Linked DNA regions of Homo sapiens. The protein of the gene in region 1 purifies or fractionates together with the protein of each later gene. This does not show direct contact. Each region holds a gene or a part of one and is shown in the gene's direction. Other genes may lie near its edges.

The links.
Region 2: the proteins of NOD1 (region 1) and OLFM4 purify together in Homo sapiens (co-immunoprecipitation; one study listed by IntAct). This does not show direct contact.

Annotation. Positions count from the first base shown.
Region 1 is NC_000007.14:30,447,700-30,451,515, reverse strand, and holds part of NOD1 (nucleotide-binding oligomerization domain-containing protein 1), read left to right. Parts: coding exon 1-300; intron 301-439; exon of another isoform or gene 440-598; intron 599-3,134; coding exon 3,135-3,218; exon of another isoform or gene 3,219-3,224; intron 3,225-3,816. UniProt on the Homo sapiens protein: Pattern recognition receptor (PRR) that detects bacterial peptidoglycan fragments and other danger signals and thus participates in both innate and adaptive immune responses.
Region 2 is NC_000013.11:53,031,739-53,035,554, forward strand, and holds part of OLFM4 (olfactomedin-4 precursor), read left to right. Parts: intron 1-2,609; coding exon 2,610-2,762; intron 2,763-3,816. UniProt on the Homo sapiens protein: May promote proliferation of pancreatic cancer cells by favoring the transition from the S to G2/M phase. In myeloid leukemic cell lines, inhibits cell growth and induces cell differentiation and apoptosis.

The DNA of each region.
Region 1 (3,816 bases):
CCTGCCCCGCGTTCAGGTCGAAAGCTTCAACCAGGTGCAGGCCATGCCCACGTTCATCTGGATGCTGCGCTGCATCTACGAGACACAGAGCCAGAAGGTGGGGCAGCTGGCGGCCAGGGGCATCTGCGCCAACTACCTCAAGCTGACCTACTGCAACGCCTGCTCGGCCGACTGCAGCGCCCTCTCCTTCGTCCTGCATCACTTCCCCAAGCGGCTGGCCCTAGACCTAGACAACAACAATCTCAACGACTACGGCGTGCGGGAGCTGCAGCCCTGCTTCAGCCGCCTCACTGTTCTCAGGTGAGGCTGCCAGGCAAGGGGAGCAACAGGTGGGCCGGGCGGGCCAGGCTCGGAGGGCATCGGGAATGGCATCATGGACCAGGATCCCCCAGGACTCATGACCATGGCCCTTGGAATGTCCAGACCTTTTCTTTCTTAGCAGGGCAGAGGTCAAGGTGCAAAGCTTCGAGGCAGGTGGACCTGGATCAGCCACAGCTGGGTGCCCTTGAACAAAGTGCTTAACTCTCAGAGCCTCCACGCCCTCATCTGGAAAAAGAAGATGCTCATAATCCTATCAATTATGGCCACAGGGACCAATGTTAGTTGAGAATGGGTGAAGTGCATTACAAATATTACCTAATGGAATGCTCTTTACAACCCTGTAACTTAGGTACTGTTATTGTCTCTATTTTGGCAGATAAGGAAGTAGAGGCACAGAGAAGTTAATAGCTTGCTTTAGGTCACACAGCTCAGACATAGCAGTGCCAGAATGCATAAAGAACCTTCCTTTTAAGATTAATGTAAGGCTCCGAGATAGCCCTCAAAAAGTTTCTGGAATATGGGAGCTTTTATTACTGCAGAGAAAGCAGACCTTGTGCCAGTTGGCACTGGTGACTTTCTGTGATCAACGCTAGCAGCCCTTCACACTGCTAGAGACCTCAGTTAAAATGCTGACTCGTGGTTGTTTTCCTGTTCCATAGTTTACGGGAAACAGAGCCCAGTCTGTTTTCTTCTATTAGCATTTCCTATGTAAAATAAACCTTGTAAATCTCTACAGGGGGTTAAATTTGCCATTACTTGACTCATGCATTTCTAAAAAGCAGTAGGGATTTGGAACTGACTCCCAGTGCCTGTCACACCAGTGTCAGAGTGTAAATAATTGCATGGGGACATGGGGTGCAGGGGGTCGAAGGCTGCCCTAGCCTGGGAATTGGAAAACCTGGAGTCTGTTCTCTGTACTCTCAGCCAGTGACTCTCCCTCTGTAGCCCCAGGCAGTCTCACACTCAGTGCCACCCTCTGTCCATCTTTTTTTTTTCTCCCCCAAATGGAGTCCCGCTCTGTTGCCCAGGCTGGAGTGCAGTGGCGTGATCTCAGCTCACTGCAACCTCCGCCTCCTGGGTTCAAGCGATTCTCTTGCCCCAGCCTCCTGAGTAGCTGGGATTACAGGCACACGCCACCATGTCCGGCTAAGTTTTTTGTATTTTTAGTAGGACGGGGTTTCCCCATGTTGGCCAGGCTGGTCTTGAAATCCTGACCTCAGGTGATCCGCCCGCCTCGGCCTTCCAAAATGTTGGGGTTACAGGCATGAGCCGCCGCACCCGACCCCTCTGTCCATCTTTTCAATGGGAAACTCCACACCAGTGTGGTGGCCCTGCCCTTCCTGCTGTCCCCAGGTGAAGCTTTCCTTCACACCAGTGCAAGAAAAAACAGCTTGTAGGAAAGCAGAGGATATGGGTAACCACGGGAAGCACACTCAGTTCTCTGGCTGCATCAGTTAGGATTAGTTTTAGCTGAGAGCGAAAACCCCAAATGTTGGTGAGTTACAAGCTTATTTCTCTCATGTAAAAGTCTAGAGGTAGGTAGTTCAGGACTGGTATGGAGTCTCCATGACCCTCCGGAGCCCAGGCTCTCTTCTGCCTTCCTGTTCTGCCATCCTCACTACCCGGCTTTCCCATCTTGGCCCAAGAGGGCTGCTCAAACTCCAGCCATCTAGTCGACACTCTAGCTATCAGTAAGAAGGAAGGGCAAAGATTGAGAGCATGCCTCAATCTTTTAAGAACACTTCTTGGCTATTACTAATTATATTGCTGCTTAGATTTCAGAACTTAATGGTATGGGCAGAATTTAATGAGATGGGCCCAGCTAAAAGATGGGGGAATCTATTGCTAAGAAAGTATAGATATTGGGAATGTCTAGCAGCCTGTGCTGTCTTGGGCTGGCCATGCCATGTACATACACACTATTTCCCAGCACCAAGCTGGGGACTCTGAGGGAAAGGGTCCAGAGTGTCTGACTTGATCATTTTGATGTGGCCTAAAAATCAAGCTTTTAATTGTTCAGCCTTTTACTTGTTATCAAGGTCAGCTTGTGGGTCTAATTGGGCCCAAGGCTTGTGTTTCTAAGTAAAGTTTTATTGGAACGCAGCCATACCCATTTATTTACTTACTGGCTGCTTCACACTACACAGTTGAGTAGCTGTGACAGAGACCACATGGCCCACAGAGCCTAAAATATTTGCTGTCTGACACTTTACAGAATGACATGAGCAGTCTCCTTTGACAGTGGGACTCACAGCCTTTTCCAGTGACAAATCAGGGTTAGCCCATGTGTTTCTGGATGGGGGGAAGCTGTTGGCATTTTGGGTATAACAGTTCTTGTGAGACCTGTCCAGCATTTTGCAGGACACCTAACATCATTGGCCCTGCCTGCAAGATGACAGGGCACTCCCTCCTCCAGTCACAACCACTAAAAGCAGCCCCTGACATTTCCAAACCCATGCCCTCCACCATACGAGAACCAGGTACAGGGTCTGGCTGACACATAGGTCACACGCAAAGGGTGGATGTCAGAGGTGGCTGGCCTCACACGTCCTCCCTGTGTCCTTCACGGTCGTGTGAGGAGCCAGGGGCTGTGCTGCAGCCTCGCTCATGGGCTGGTGCAGGATGGGTCTGGCGGCCCCACGTTGGCCAGGCTTTGTAAGGGGCTATTTGGCTGATTGCTGTGGCCATTCTCCAGGGGCGTCTATACCTGAGAAAACTCCAGGGCCTGAAGGCTTCTGGATCTTTGTAAGATTAATGGTCCTTCATAATGAGTGCCTGCCCTGACTCGTAATTTTTTTGCTGTTTTATTTCAGACTCAGCGTAAACCAGATCACTGACGGTGGGGTAAAGGTGCTAAGCGAAGAGCTGACCAAATACAAAATTGTGACCTATTTGGGGTATGTCTTTCTCCAGAACACTGGGCCAACTACCTAGTAATAATACAGAGCTGCAGGGAATTCACATTCCCATAGGTCCCTGGATGATCGGCACGGATGGCCCAGGGCTGGGAAGAGCGCTGGCCCAGGAGTTGAGAGTCCTGGGTTCTCTTTGTGGCTCGGCCAGTCATGAAGTCTTGCTGAGCCTCAGCCTCCTCACCTGTAAAACTGGGATCCCAGTATAGGCAAGTAGGCTTACAACTGGTTATTGGGGGATGCAACGAGAATATAAGGGGATATATTTAATAAATGCTAGAATCCTGTTTACATATTAGTCTGGACTATTTTGGGTCCATAATCCCTCATCCAGAGCCTTTGGGGCAAGACCCGAATGGGGATTCTGAGTGCATGCTATGGCATGACGTGGCCGCAGGGGTCTAAGGCAGTGCCCCATTTTCAAACACTTTCATATTTCTCCCGCAGAATGTATGAAACAGTCAAACCAAGTGTGGTAAGAAAGACTATAAGTAGCTCCACATCAGTTGCCAAAAGAATTGTGAGAAACTTTGGGCATTCAGAGCCTTTGAGGTTTTGGAGTCTGAGAGAAGGGATTGCGGGC
Region 2 (3,816 bases), on another chromosome or scaffold:
AGTGTAGACATCAGTAAATGTTAATTGAACACGTGCTTAGGGAAAACCTACCAATATAAGGTGTCTTGTGAGGTACTCAGGGTCCTATTTGCCCTACAGAAGGGGAATCGCATATTCTTCCAAAGGCCAAGGGGACAAGCTCTTGTCTTTGTCTCCCATCCCCCATGCTTCATTCATGTAGAGTTTGGGCATTCACCGCAGAGAGAGACTCATCACCATTAGCTTCATTGTCTTTGAATGCGAGGAGCAGAAATATCTCTAATGGGAGACACTGATCAAACTTATGGACCATTTTGATGTCAGCTGAGCATGCTGGGCTGATGATAAGCAGGATGGAAGCTGGGGGAGTCCACAGCTTTGGGACAGAGATGTTCAATAGAAACCGATGGAATGGCTGACAGCAGGGCTCATAATTACTTGTCTGTCTTTCAAGTGAACTTCAGGACTAAAAGTTGTTAGCTAGTGGTTCCTAATTGACTGTCTAGAGATTGCTTGATGATATCCACTGTTTTCTGAGTTGGCAGAATTTTTCAGAGAACTCTGAGAATGGCCCAACCCTGTTTGTGCAGCTAATTAAACTCCCCTTGTTAAAATGCAATGCAAGATTTTTTTTTTGCTAGACTGTTATTATAATAAGCTATTTCTTCAAAAGTCCTTGATATGTCGGTCTTTTCTGTAAAAGCCTTGGCATGCTTGAGTTGGAGTCTTTCTATCTTTGGAGAAATGAGTAAAGCTGGTTTCAAGGGAAGCTGGCCTCTCTGATAGGTTCCTGGTGTATCTTACCGAGTCTTTATTCATCTCTGGCAAAGACCCTTCCCCTATTCAAACCCTGCTGTCCACCCCTATGTTCGACATAAATCTGCTTGTTTCTCCTCCCTACTCCTGAACTGTTTCCCACGTAGGGATGTGATTGGAAAAGAAAATTGAGACCAAGGTAATAAATTTTGACTAAACACATAAAAAATATGATTGGATACACACACATATTTTTTTTTTCTGCTCATCTTGAAACTTAAATTAAATTAAAAACAACTTAGATGCAAAAGCCTTGATTGGCCCCGAGGCCAGTGATAAAATAAGTCTTCATTATAGAAGCATCTAGACCCAGCTTGATCAGGCATTATGGAGGTTGGTGGCCATTAAATGCACAGGACCCATTACACCACCTGCAGCTGGCTGACCTGAACTTTGAGAGACATGGCCAGAGTCACTTCTGGCTCTGAAGACCATTGCTGTCTCCTTAGAGGTTTCATAAAAAGTCCCTTCAGGCTGATGTTCCACAGGTGAGCTTTGGGTTGGCTTTCAGATGAGATCATTAAAAGGCACAGCAAATTGGCTGCCAAGGGTTACTCTGTAAGGCAATAGTAGTAATAAAAAAATGTTAATTGTGCTGGGATCCTCTTGGGGAAGTTCAAAGGGGACAAAAGAAAAACAGGATCTTTCAAAAGTGTCATTTAAAAATATGCGGTGGCACTGAAGTGTGAGTCTGAATATCTTAAATGAACATAAAATATTTTAAAATGACTTTTTCTGCAAATGGTAAGCTGGAAAAAAACTTTTATTAAAAAAAATTGCACAAAACCTTCAAGCTCATACGCTATTCACTTTCTAACAAATGGCTGGTTCCCATTTTGAAGGATGTTAATTTGCAATTTCCCAGGCGATGAGAGGATATGAATTTGCATCATATATTTTCACTGTAGCCCACATCTTTGGTGATTCCCTCATTCTGATGAAAAGGAATTGGATTGGGTTGGGGTGAAGGTGAGGAAGAGAAAATGAGCAGTAGAAGGAAAGAGAATGTGACATTTTCAGATCACCTACTCTGTGCCAGGGACTTGGCTCACATTACTTCGTTAATACTGAGGACAACCCTGTGAAGTAGGTTATCTCTATTTTACAGATGAAGGAACTAAGAATTAAGGAGATTTCACATCTAGCAAGTGCTAGAATTGAAATTCAAACTTAGCACTCTCATAGCTTCTTTATTTCCCTTTCCTTGCATAGAGATAGGAATAATCTCCTTTAAGACTCCAGAATGGCCGGGCGCGGTGGCTCACGCCTGTAATCCCAGCACTTTGGGAGGCCGAGGTGGGTGGATCACGAGGTCAGGAGATCGAGACCACCCTGGCTAACACGGTGAAACTCCGTCTCTACTGAAAATACAAAAAATTAGCCAGGCGTGGTGGCGGGCTGTAGTCCCAGCTACTTGGGAGGCTGAGGCAGGAGCATAGAGTAAACCCGGGAGCCGGAGCTTGCAGTGAGCCGAGATCGCGCCACTGCACTCCAGCCTGGGCGACAGAGTGAGACTCCGTCTCAAAAAAAAAAAAAAAAAAAAAAAAAGCCTCGAGAATGGGGAATCTTCCTTTAGGTAAAGTCTGCTGGCGTAGTGGTTTTCGTACAACCAGTGGCGATGTGGCTAAACGCTGGGTGGTCCCCACCTGTGAAAACAAAGCTGTTTTAGCTTGTTTCTATGATTCTATTCATTTATGTATTGGACTCCACTTACTTGCCTGTAAGTACTCTCGACAAGCCAATTTCTGTCACTCCAGTTGCCAAAAGCTCAGATTCCAGCTTGTTATTGATGTTCAACTTGTTATTATTTGCAGTTGTTTTCCAATTTCACCGGCTCCGTGGATGACCGTGGGACCTGCCAGTGCTCTGTTTCCCTGCCAGACACCACCTTTCCCGTGGACAGAGTGGAACGCTTGGAATTCACAGCTCATGTTCTTTCTCAGAAGTTTGAGAAAGAACTTTCCAAAGTAAGCATTTTCTTTTCAAACAATATCTTGATAAAGAGAAACAAAACAAAATGTGTTTTAATTTAGGATTTTATAAGCAATCATTCTTCACTATCAAAGACATCACGTTTTTATTCTATGGTGATTTTAGTATTTATTTTATAGGACACCAATGGAGTTCTTATTAAGGCAGGGAAAATGAGAGCACAGGAAGAAAGTGGGGTTCAAATTGTTCACGCCGTGGATAAACTCACTATAGTATTGTGGTACTTAGGCAGTTGGAAAGAAGCCTTGAGCTCTCCTTGCAAACCCCAACCTGCAATTTTTATTTTGTTTTGACGCTGCTTCTTCCTTTTGGTCTTCTAGGTCTTTCCTCAAGCTTTGCTTTCTTTTCTTTCTTCTCCTCTATCCCCTTTAGTTCTATTCTATCTCCCTTCTCTTTTTCCTTTTCTTCTATTTCTATTCCATTCCTGCATCCTTTAGTTTCTTATTTCTCTTGCCTCAATCCTTGCCCTTATTCATCCCTTCTAATCTCTCTTTTCCTTTCCTGGTTAATTCTTTTTTGGGGGGGACATTTTTGGGTATTTTCTTACTTTTAGATGATCTTTTTTTCCCTCCTTCTTTTCCCTTCCTCCACTTCCACTCCTTCAAATCCTCTCCCTCTCATCCTCCTCCCTCCCTCTCTCTTTCCTTTAACCCTTTTTTATCTTTACAAATTGCTCACTTCCTTCTCTCTCCCCCTCACTCTCTTTTTTTGTGACAATAAGTTGTAGTCTCTTTTATTTTTTTCTATTTTCTCCAAGTGAAATCCAAGGTTGTAGTCTCTTTATTTTTAATCTTATTTTTTTTTGGTGTATAGTAGGTGTATGTATTAATGGGGTACATGAGATACCCTGAGACAGGCATGCAATGCGTAATAATCACATCATGGAAAATGGAGTGTCCATCCCCTCAAGCATTTATCTTTTGTGTTACAAACCATCCAATTAGACTCTTTTACTTATTTTAAAATGTACAATGAAATTATTATGGACTATAGTCACCCTGTTGTGCTGTTGAATACTAGGTCTTATTT